Homo sapiens: one gene and its partners. The main gene of each other region encodes a partner of the protein of the gene in region 2 in a complex. Links are inferred from orthologs where the notes say so. Each region holds a gene or a part of one and is shown on either strand. Other genes may lie near its edges.

The links.
Region 1: the proteins of SNAP25 (region 2) and VAMP3 are in contact, whole or in part, in a crystal structure (PDB 5KJ8), measured with the Rattus norvegicus proteins. The link is inferred for Homo sapiens from one-to-one orthologs. Residues at the interface, in NP_112253.1 of Rattus norvegicus: Asp147, Leu150, Glu151, Val153, Ser154, Ile157, Leu160, Arg161, Ala164, Leu165, Met167, Gly168, Ile171, Asp172, Gln174, Asn175, Ile178, Asp179, Ile181, Met182, Ala185, Asp186, Asn188, Lys189, Ile192, Ala195, Asn196, Ala199, Thr200, Met202; in NP_476438.1 of Rattus norvegicus: Ser15, Arg18, Leu19, Gln21, Thr22, Gln25, Val26, Glu28, Val29, Ile32, Met33, Asn36, Lys39, Val40, Glu42, Arg43, Lys46, Leu47, Glu49, Leu50, Arg53, Ala56, Leu57, Gly60, Ala61, Gln63, Phe64, Ser67, Leu71, Lys74.
Region 3: the proteins of SNAP25 (region 2) and RPH3A are in contact, whole or in part, in a crystal structure (PDB 5LOW), measured with the Rattus norvegicus proteins. The link is inferred for Homo sapiens from one-to-one orthologs. Residues at the interface, in NP_112253.1 of Rattus norvegicus: Glu38, Asp41, Ile44, Arg45, Leu47, Val48, Met49, Asp51, Glu52, Glu55; in NP_598202.2 of Rattus norvegicus: His617, Ser618, Ala621, Ile648, Ser649, Ala650, Lys651, Gly652, Leu655, Tyr659, Leu662, Lys663, Lys665.

The regions. Positions count from the first base shown.
Region 1 is NC_000001.11:7,769,693-7,773,439, reverse strand, and holds the start of VAMP3 (vesicle-associated membrane protein 3), read right to left. Parts: upstream 2,145-3,747; 5' UTR 2,057-2,144; coding exon 2,055-2,056; intron 1-2,054. UniProt on the Homo sapiens protein: SNARE involved in vesicular transport from the late endosomes to the trans-Golgi network.
Region 2 is NC_000020.11:10,216,643-10,220,389, reverse strand, and holds the start of SNAP25 (synaptosomal-associated protein 25), read right to left. Parts: upstream 1,561-3,747; 5' UTR 1,413-1,560; exon of another isoform or gene 1,177-1,412; intron 1,154-1,176; exon of another isoform or gene 884-1,153; intron 1-883.
Region 3 is NC_000012.12:112,790,166-112,793,912, reverse strand, and holds the start of RPH3A (rabphilin-3A), read right to left. Parts: upstream 2,166-3,747; 5' UTR 1,901-2,165; intron 1,771-1,900; 5' UTR 1,650-1,770; intron 1-1,649. UniProt on the Homo sapiens protein: Plays an essential role in docking and fusion steps of regulated exocytosis.

The DNA of each region.
Region 1 (3,747 bases), on a different chromosome or scaffold from region 2:
GGAACATGTAAAGGCATGAGCATGAGTACATTACGATTCCAAATACATTTTCTTAAGTATAAAGATGTTACTCCGGGACTCTCACTGTTAACAATCTCTTACATTAGAACTAAAACAGAAAAAGAAATTCTTCCTGAAGCAATGAACGAAAGTTTTAATTGCATTTCTTCTAATTTCTCTATAATTTCCAAGACTGTCCCACCTACTAAAGGGACAAATGTTAAGCTTTAATAGGACCTACTTTGTATCCCTGAAGTATCTGATCCCACGATAGGTAAGCTCTACTGTCCTTTTTTGAAACTTGTTCTAAGGCACACATCTGCTTGAATGTACTCAGTACTTTCCTGATCTTTTCATTGTGGAAGGAACTGTTTTCATAGTTACAAACAGTTACAGAATGCCCTTTTTCCAATATGGAAAAATAGATTAATTTACAGAAACAGAGTCAGGAACACTGGGATGCAGGGAGTGGGTGGTGTGAGTGGAAAGGTGTGTTGAAGAAATGCCTCCTCTTTTAGGAAGGTACTCTTTCTTTTTCCCCCTCTTTTGAGAGACGGAGTTTCGCTCCTGTTGCCCGGGCTGGAGTGCAATGGCGCGATCTCGGCTCACTGTAACCTCCGCTTCCTGGGTCCAAGCAATTCTCTTGCCTCAGTCTCCCAAGCAGCTGGGATTACAGGCATGTGCCACCACGCCCGGCTAATTTTGTATTTTTTAGTAGAGACGGGGTTTCACCATGTTGGTCAAGCTGGTCTCGAACTCCTGACCTCAAGTGATCCGTCCACCTCGGCCTCCCAAAGTGCTGGGATTACAGGCATGAGCCACCGCGCCCGGCCCAGGAAGGTACTCATCTTTTAAAATCTTCATCAAAGGCTTTATTTCTCCCCATGCAGATCTTTCTTAACCACTCTGACTCTGAAGTCATTATTGGCTCCATTACTTGGAAAGTATCACTTTGGTTTTTCAGGTATAAAGTCCCGCCTCCTCGAATAGATCACAGGTTCCTGGGTCTTCTTACTCTCTTCTCTGTATCCTAGATAGCACCTAGCATGTGCCTTGGTATACAACAGTCTGATGGGCTGTTTGAACAGTCACTTTACATCTGTCATGTGTCAATGACCAGGGCTACAACAGATCTCATCACCGTCCTCACGGAGTTTAGTATCTGGTAGATAAGTAAGGACCATGCCGTGGCGCTAGACTCTTTCCATGCTTTTCCTCCTTTAACCCTCATAACTCTCTGAGGGGAATATTACTCCTATTTTACAAATGAGTAAAGTGAGGTTTAGAGAGTCAACACAGCTGGCTGCAGGACAGCTTGTTTTTAGATCAGGTCCTGTGTACCTTGGCTCTAGATCTTAACCACTGTGATCTATTGGCACAGCAGCCTCAGCAGGAACATTCGAGGGGGGTCCCCAGCTCCTGGAAGAAACCCGGGGCTTCCTCCGACGGTGAGCAATGAGCAGAATGGAGGTGGAAGAGGGAGTCCTTGTGATTCTTAACCATTAGCATTCTCTGAGTCTTACCACTGGAAGCAGGGGTTTGCAACGTGCTTTCGCTTAAGAGAGCGAAGGCCCACGGTTAAGTGATCTTTCCAGTGCAGATGCCCCTAGCTAGGCAAGGAGCTCTTCGGCCCACAGGGGCTCAGGACAGGGCCGAGGTCCTTTCTTTCGCAACTTCTGGGGCCCAGCGCAGCACCGGGCCGAGAGCGGGCGCTCCCGAACCAGGGCTGTCGTCCCCATTCCTCTCAGGGACGTCGGGGACTAGAAAGGGAAGGGGCGAGGAGCGGGCTGCGGGCGGGCAGCTCACTTCCTCCGGGAAGCGTCTCGCCGCCCCGCCCTTGCCCCTTCCGCGTCCGCCCGATGGCCGCGGGACCCGCCCGGCCCGTCTGCAGCCCGCGACCCAAGGGCCACCGCCCACCCCCAGGCCTCGGGATCCCCGCGCAGCCCCGGCCTGCGTCCGAGTGGCGGCCGGCGGCAACTGGGCAGTATGGCGGTCCCAGCGCGAGCTGCCGCCTGCGGGGCCCGAAGCCGCCCGCGTCGCGTAGCGTCACTCACATTTTGGCAGCTGCGGCGGCGGCAGCGGCGACGAGAGAGGGTCAGCAGAGAAGCGAAGTTGGGACCGGAGGCCAGGGAGATGGGTGGGACGGCGCGGCGCGGGGCAAAGACGTCACTAGGCGGAGCCGGGGGAGTGGGCGGGGCGAAGAGGGGGCGCGCCGGAAGTGGGCGGGGGCGTCGTGGGTGGGTGCGTCCAGGGCGGGGTCAGAGCGAGACGTCCCCTCCCCGGACGAGGTCACTTGGGAACTTGAGGGCCACAGGGGTCCCAGGGCGGTCCGGGCTCTGAAACGCAGAACGCAGGTCAATACAGCTCCCTGTCCGCACCGCCGTCCGCGCTGGCGCTTGGGGACGTGGTCTGTAAACGTGGTGCATTAGCCACTGGCGAGGGACTGCGTGGATAAGTGAGGGTGGGGGCAATTCATGTTATTCTGGGCTCGGGACCATTTCTAACAGTATTAGAGACAGATGACTGGCTTCTGCTGAGTGTTCCAGAGTAACCTAGTGATCCTGAGGGCACCATGTTTCTCTAAAGTAGTTGAAATAGGAAGTCCATTTCGGGTATTTGTCACATGGTGTTGGGTGAGGTTCCCGCTCATGTTTTCATCGGTGACACAAATATTTGTCACTGCAGATCATATTATAATCTGCTTACGAGAGCCTTGGCATCAAGGCTGTAGTTCCTTTATTTCTGTATTTTCAGGCCCTAGCACAGAATAGGTCCTCAGGTTTTGGTCGAAGGGAGGGAAGCACAAATCTGAACGCAGTGAGTTACCTTGTATATATTTGTTACTGAAATATTCCTACCAACATAGTTACCTACACCAAAAAATAAAACACTAATAGGTCATTGGTGGGTCTCTTAGATGAGAAGTGAAAAATACAGTACTTAAATACTATGCTGTTTTTTCCAACTCTAAATAGAATACTTTGAAAAGGGAAACGTTAGTATATATCGAATAAACGAGTGTCACAAAGGCGGTGGGATTTGAGCTGGGTACTAGTGGAAAAGAACTTTCCAAGTAAGGGTTGGGCAAACACCATGAACAAAGACAGCAGTGAAAATGGACGCAGTGTGCACAGACCACCTAGAGGGTGCAGGTTGGGTACAAGTGAAAAGAAGACTGAATAAAGAGGATAAACAAACAAGAAAAATGTCATTTAATTGTAGTGGGCCCTGGAAACCATTGACTTACGGACGTGGGAGATCCATGATGCAAAATTTCTCTGGCAGTAGTGGCCAGATGGATTAGATGGAAGAGGGAGCACTAGGGAGATAAGGAGAGGCTCTGCAGTGAACGGGAAGGGAGCGGCGATGACACAATACTCAGAAAGGACGACGTTCGTAATCTGCTGGAAAATGCCTTTTAGAAGACTTTAGAGGATTGTAACTGAAAAGGTGAATTAAATTAATGTCTTTATCTTTCAAATAATTGCACTGCCTTACACAAATGATTGACATGTTGAGAGGTGCCTGGAAAGATAGGGGAAAAGCTCTCTGAATGGTGGCTGGAAGACATTTTTTCTTTCATGGACCTAGCTGAAACAATGTAACATTCAATGTCAAAACATTACATCTGGATCAGAAGGAAATCCTTGACATTATTACATATGTTTTGAAACATGTGCCCATCACCTTAGATTTCACTACCCGGTCATATTAAAGCAAAACACACACGTAGTATGGGGAAATTTT
Region 2 (3,747 bases):
CCTGCGATAACCAGTGCTGATAGCAAATACTTCCAGTAACTCTGAAACCGTGGCCAAAGAGGTTAAATCTATTCAGTACAGGACCAGTAAAATTTCTCAGATATGTGTTTTTGTGGATGAATGCTTGTATTCATGCCTGATTGCAAGGATGGGGGAAGAAGGAAAAGGAAGAGTGATTCATTCTTAAAGTTGATTCTGCTTAGTTCAGCTAATCTCACATTTTTATCAAATGGAAACATAGAGAGAGATGTATCATCCCTATAAACAGATAGCATTGGCTTCTTCATATATACAGTACTTATGCTCACCCAAGATCTGTAGACAGATCTACTCTGTGTTAAAAAACAAAACCAAACAAAAACCTTGATACCCTGCTGGAGGATAAATCCATATTTTTTAAAAAATGTATTTATTTTCTACGTAAAATAAGGGTCAGAGGGCAACACAGAAGATTTCCACAAGTAGACTATTTTGTTGAAGCTATGCAGGAGGTGAGGAGGGGAACAGGAAATTGTCTGCAAAGGAGTCTCTGTGAGGAAGATTTATTTCTTTCTTGTTTTCTTTTAAGCTACTATGACTCCTCTATTAAGGGTCTCCGTAAGACCGGGGTCTCAGGGAGACAATTTGGTCTCCAGCCCTGGCACATCCAGCCCCGGCCAGGCATTTCTGCCGCAGGCAGATGAGGCGCTGCGGCCGGACCGCTGTCCCCGGTGCTGAAAGGTCGAGGGCGCCCGCGCGAGCCCTCGGTGTTGCTATCCAGGGTGCTGAGCGCGGGCCGCCGCAGTCCCCGAAGCCAGCCCACCCGCGCCAGCCCTCCGCAGAGCCCTCCCACCCGGCACGACCCGCCCGCCTCCCGCCAGCCTGCAGTTGACGTGGAGCAGGCGGCATAAATCAAGTCCGCGGGGCATGGAGGCTGCTGTCGCTGCAGCAGCTCAGCTTGCCCGGGGCGGGAACTCCCCCTTTCTCCTTTCGCCTCCCCAGCACCCACACCCTGTCTCCCCCTTAATTCTTCCCTGGATAATAGCACCCTAACGACAACAGTCATAATAATAGGGTTAGAACGACAGGGGAGGAAAACTCAACAGCCTAAATATCTCTGAAAACTGCATCGCAAAATGGAAGAAAGAGGGGGTCCCACTACTGTTTCAAAAGAGTAAGTTATTATTCGGTACGTACCCTCGCTCTTCCTCCCCGTCGCTCCATTTGCAGGGCTCCCGTTTCCCTTTTCCCCAGCAGCTCACCTCGAAAACACTTTATAAAGCCCCCACCAGACGTGCACACACGGAATACCGCACCCTAAGTGCACCAATACTTGTATTTACCCAAGCCCACTCGGACTGCCCAGCTGCTGTCCCTTCTGGGTATGCAGCCATCCCGAGCCAGAGCCACGACCTGGGGAGGGGGGTTCTTACCTGGGCTTCTCGGGAGGGTTGTGTTCTCCGGGCCTCTGCAGGTTGCAACTGTGGTGGAGCCGCCGAGCAGGGAGGGAAGGAAAGACAGCGCCTGACCTCCCCGAGGTTTCGTCTTCAATGCAACGTGAGCTCTGCCCTCATCAAAGATGGCCGTCCGTTTTGACGTCAGCAGCTTTTAATAGCCGCCCAGCGAGGGGCGGGAGGAAGTGGGGGCGGGGCACGGCGGGGGCGGGGGCGGGGCCCGGGCTGCGGCGCGCTTGACTCGGTTCCCAGTGCGCTGGCCTGCAAACCTGCGTGTTTTCACCTTCTATAAACACCCGCACGGGGCGACTCTTATGACTCCATTTTAACACTCGGTCTTGGGCAAACGCGTTCATCCCGCAACTGCATTCCTGATGTTCTTTGGTGTGTGTGCGTGTGTGTGTACATATGTGTATATGTGTGTGTATGTATATATGTATGTGTGTGTATATTTTATAATACATGTATAATATATGTATAATTTGTGTGTATGTGTATATATTCCCCCCCACCCCCACCCCCACCCCCTTTCAGTGGAATCTGTGGTTGAGTCATCTAAGGAGAGGGGAAGGCAGAGGAGGGGTAAAAGGTAGTGATGGGAGGGGTGGGGGAAATTTCAGCGGCGATTTGTTTTCTCCGAAGAGGGTCCGTAGGGGCATCCCCGTCCACCCTCGCCAGCTCCATATATGGCCAGGCTACGTGGGTTGCTATTTTTATGAGTGATTGCTTCATGTTATCGAAGCAGCGTCGAGGGCTTGTGGCTCTCGTTGCTGTGGTCAGCCGGGCAGCGAGGCTGGCGCACGTTATTTTGAACTACGTCAGAGCCAGGCTCTCTGAGCTGTTGCAGGAGTCGGGGGAAGGAGAAGGGAAGCGGAGTTAGCCCAGCCAGCGTGGGTTTGCAAGGACTCGAGGCTTGAAGTTGAGTTGTTTGCCGAGGGCAAAAACGGATGACTCTGCTTTCGGTGGAATTTGCAGTCGGTGCTGGGGTTTCATGCTGGGTGTCTTAGGGGTACCCCACGGAGGCACAGACGCCCCGAGGGAACCGTCCAAACGGCCGGGAGGAGGTGGGGGATTCAGAGCAAGGACGGCTGGGACACGGCCGAATCTGGGGGTTCACTCAGTGCGCAAACCCCGGGGTACCCGTGCAGGCTGCCTCGGGGGGCCCTCGGATGCTCAAATCAGGGCGGGGAGACAAAGGCTACTTGTGCTGGTCGTATTAGAGATTAAAAGTGATAATTATAAAGCAACAACCCTAACTGTCCTCCCTGGCCGTGCCCGGGCCCGGGAAGGGGGTGGTGCGCGGATCGCTCGGCGGTGGCAGCCTCCCGGATGATTCACAGGTGTTGGGGAGGCTGTCGCGGGGCTCTCCGCAGGGAGGGAGGGCTGGGGAGCGCGTGGGAGGTGGGGGACCTCGTCTGAGGAACTGTTTGTACTTTTCCGGGAAGGATGCGATTAGAAGTCGTGCCTCGCAATGTTAAAACTTGATGGCCTCTTTTAGGCTATGGAAAATCCTTGTCTCGCTTAGGAGAAACCATTTAGAGCTGGGTTCGGAAAAGCGGCGTACAACCTCTCCCCTTGCACCCTCGCCCCCCACCCCCGCCCCACCACACACACACACACACACACACACACACACACACACACATCCCTAGCTGGCCTGAGAGCCAAGCTTAGGCAATAATACGGCCTTTGATTGCGCTCCATTGCGGAGGGAGGGAAGCGGGGTAGGGGGAAGGGAAGAAGAGTTGTGAAGGCGCTGCGTTTAGAAAGAGACGGGTTGTTAAGAATTTAATAAAGGATACCTTTAATCGAAATTAGTAGACATAATTGTTTCTTAAAGATTCCCTGGCCTGAAGGCTTTTTTTTGACGTATTGATGTTTTTGCCATAATAATTAACAGTGTTTGGATGTTAATTAAAGCCAAATTCCTAAAAAAGGCATGTTGCTGAAATTTGTTTACTTAAATATTCATTAAACATTTAAGATTGCCATACAATAAAGAAGAAAATCTGCAAAGTCCTTAGATACTTAATTGCCAATAAAAGTCTCTTGAGTATGGCTCTTACTTTCATTATAAAGCAAGTTGGAATAGGGGGAAAGGGGTTTGAATGCAATGTACTGCAAAATCCTTTGTAGTCAGAATTTTTTCCAAAGTGTGACACTTTAAAAAAAGGCAGCATGCGGAAGTTTGAAGAGAAAAAAAAACCTGCAGAGGGAGAAAAAAAAATGTGTGTATGGCCCTCAGACTAGAAATCATTCAGGCAGAAAGTTTTGTGAAGGAATGGAGGAGGTGGGGGATTTTCCAAGTTAAAAA
Region 3 (3,747 bases), on a different chromosome or scaffold from region 2:
GCTGCCCTGAGGCCTCGTGGCTCTCTTGATAGCCCCCTAAGATCCCCCCAAACCTCTCCATAATCCAGCAATTAAAAGATTAACACTCAGTACAGCAGGGGCCCCCTAAGATGCCCTATTCCAGGACCCTAGCCATTCTGATCGATTAGTACCAAATTTCAATACTTTAAATATCACCCATAGCCAGATATGTGGTTCTTTTTTTGAACAAAATTTCCACACATTCATTATTCACACTCAAGTCTTCCCAGTGAGGAATCTAAGGCAACTTCCTCCTCAAGGTCACCCAGCAAGAGAAGCTAGGAAGAGAAGTTAGGGATTTTGAGAACCAAATCTTTGACACTAACCACCAGACAACCCTCCTCTTCTGCCTCATATGTCCTGCCTGAGCAGGCACATGCTGTGGGATTTCAGCATCTCTTCTTAGCTATGGGGCTAGAGAAAAAAAGAATGAGTGAACCCTGCTTATATTTCAGGCTTGCCAATCTCTGACTGTTGTTTTATTCCTCCCACCTCCAAGAGCAAGAATCTAAAAAGGAAATCCTTGGGGGTGCAGAACACTGAGGTGGCCCCTGAGATAATAGCAAAAATGCTAAAAACAAGGGCATTCATTTCCAGAAAAGTAGATGTAATCAAAGCAGAAAGCAAAGTGAAATCCCCTTTTGATGGGTAGCAGATTAGCATCAAAAGCATTTCAAAATTAAATGTGAGCTTTTGGATTCAATTTCAAGGTACTTCCACTTCCCACTCACTAACAGGTTGGTGCAGCCTTTCCCCATCAGGATCTTGGAAAAAGAAACTAGTGCAGGGGGACGGTCTACCCTGGAACAAAACTGAAGCTGAAGCCTGGAATCTTTCCCCAGAATTTGAACAAGCTTTGTTCCCCTCCTTCCTTCTGAGATGAACTCAAGGATAGAATCTCCCAAGCTAGTGCCAGGACGCTCCCCCATACAATCACTTACAGGTTACGCCACCTGTGAAAATAAAACATCATCTCCTCTGCAGGCAGTGGCTGCTCCCTTCTGGCCAGCCTGACCACTCATCCCAGGCATAGTGTGGCCCTTTCCTGGCTCCCAGGTCTTCCATCTCAGGAAAGCGTGAACAGCCAACCTCGCAAAAATCACCACAATTAAATTACTCAGCTGTTCCTAGAAGAGGGTACAATCTAAGCTCTGTCCTGTGCAAATCTTACCCAGTGTGCCCAGGCAAAAGTTACCCTTCCAGTCTCAGGTGACCCCCTCCCCTCCAGGGATAAGCACTCACTTGCTAAGTCAGAGTACCCAGAGTCCCTCCATGCTAGACTAGCCAGCCCCACGAAGGGTTAACTCTCTCAGAGAACTGCCGGCTACTTTCACCAGCTTCTGCTGCAAAGGAGAGGGCAAATTGGGCAGAAGCCACAATCTTGATCGCATTGCCTACAACATGAGCACATTTTACCCCCTCCCTGGGCACTAAGCCAAAATCTCATTTGGCTTTGGGATGCCGCTTAGGTGATAAAACACTGCAGGATGTAGGCAAATAAGCATAGTCGTTCCTCGATACCCTTCTCCTCCCAACTACCCTTTACCCCACCAGCTCATGAACACACATCACAATTGGGATTCCAACACCCCTAGCCCATCTGCACAACCCGGGAGAATATCACTTACCGCGACGCTGGAGGCTTGCAGGGGGAATGGGTGAGCCAAATTCTTGCCAACTCCTCCCTTCCCTGCCGGGTAGAAAGACGCTAAGTCCCAATGACTTGGTTTAAAAGCTCAGCGGAGGTGCCTGAAAGAAAATTGTTCATTTGACTCTCCTACTCTTCCCAAAATAAAATCAAAGCACCAGTGCACACACGTAGACACACAGACACATCAACTACCCCTAAATCATGCAGGACCAAGACAAAAAGAAATACCACTGCCAGAAGCGGAGAAAACTCGGACCAGCCAGTGAGTCAGTGGACAAGGGACAGTGGCTCCCTCAGACTGTCCTCCACATGGATGAAGGTTTTAGCTCTGTGAGTCTCTCTCTCTCTCTCTCTCTCTCTCTCTCTCTCTCTCCCTTCTCCCTTCCTTTCCAGTCCGCGTAGGCAACTCCGGGCTGCTGGCAGTAGACGAATCAATTGCTTCCCCAGAGCCAGTTTCTGCCGCGGCTGCCACCACTACTGCAAAGCCCTGTGTGAGCAAGGGAAGCGGGGCGGCAGCTTCCCAGTGCAGGGGGAACCAAGCGGGAACCAAGCCTGCCTCCCACCCGTGATTTATGTGTGCGGTGCCTGGAGAAAGAAAGGTGGGAGGCCGGGAGGGGAGGTTGGGCGCACCAGAGATCCCAGCTGGTCGAAACGGCAACCAGGGGATTGGCGGTCAGCACCACGGACAGCGCTAAGATGCCTTGGAGGAGGGGATGGGTGGGAAGCGAACCCCTAGGCAGAGAAGTTAAGTAATTGGATGGTTAAAGCAGAGAAGGGGGGAGTCCGGAGGGGTGGGGGACGGGACTTCTCGACATCACACAGTCTAGTCAGTGACAGCTTACCTACCACACACTTTTTCTAATACTGTCGCTCACTCTCAGAGCAAAGGAACTATAACTTCACAGCCCCTGTCTCCCACACGCCCCCAGTCCTGCATTGCTCCTCTCTGCTCAGACAAGAGCTTGGCACCGGTGTGGGGGGCTCCCTAAGTGGTTTTGCCCCTCAAAGTTTCGCCCAGATGACCTGTCCTCACCCCCATTGCTGCAGATTTTTGACCTGTACCTGGAGTTTCTCAGAATTCAGAGCAGAAAAGCTGAGGCTTAAGAAATGGAAATTTCTAAGGGGCAGGGTGGCTTAGTTGAATAAGCACTTGATGGTTTTCTGGAAGTCAGATCCAGCCCCCTTACAACTCTGGAAAAGTCATTTAATGTTTCCAAGTCCCATCTGTGAAAATGATAACATAATGACCTTATTTTTCCTAAAGATAGGAAGCAAGAGGTTAAAATGCAACAATAAGAATACCCAAGCTGTGAACTGCCATGATTTCATGGTCCATAACCTGTCCTAAAACACAAATGTTTGGACAGAGTGATAAAGGAATTGACAGCCCAGCTAGGATGGCATGTGCCAACCTCACCCTTCAGCAGGTGGTTTGAGTAGAATGAAGGGAAATTTTAGGTCTAAATCAGACCATTGAGCCTTGGCCAAAGAGCCTTCCCCGAAAGATCCAGACTGGCTTTCTGAAGTGAATTCACTATATGGACAATGAAATAAAAGTATCAAAAGGGGAAATATATAAAGATGAATGGATTCCCATGGCTCCCAGTGCTCCATATCTCAAGAGTCCTATTCCTCCTAACTTTGGGAAAGGGCTCAAATTGGAAAAAGGCCAGGAAATCTCAAACAGACCAAGATCTGCTTAGAACTTCTCTGCAAAGTGAAGGAGAACTCTCTCTATTGGAGACTCATATCTAAAGCTTCCCATCCAGATGGCCCAGGGTTAACTACTACATTTGTCACTTACTTCTCCCCATGAGACCCAGGAGTTAAAATGAGAACATTTAGAGCTCATTTAAAAAACAATTTTTTAAAGACAGTGTCTCTGCCAGGCGCGGTGGCTCATGCCTGTAATCCCAGCACTTTGGGAGGCCGAGGCAGGTGGATTACCTAAGGTCAGGAGTTCGAGATCAGCCTGGCCAACATGGTGAAACCCCATCTCTACTAAAAATACAAAAAAATAGCTGGGCATGGTGGTGTGCACCTGTAATCCCAGCTACTCGGGAGGTGGAGGCAGG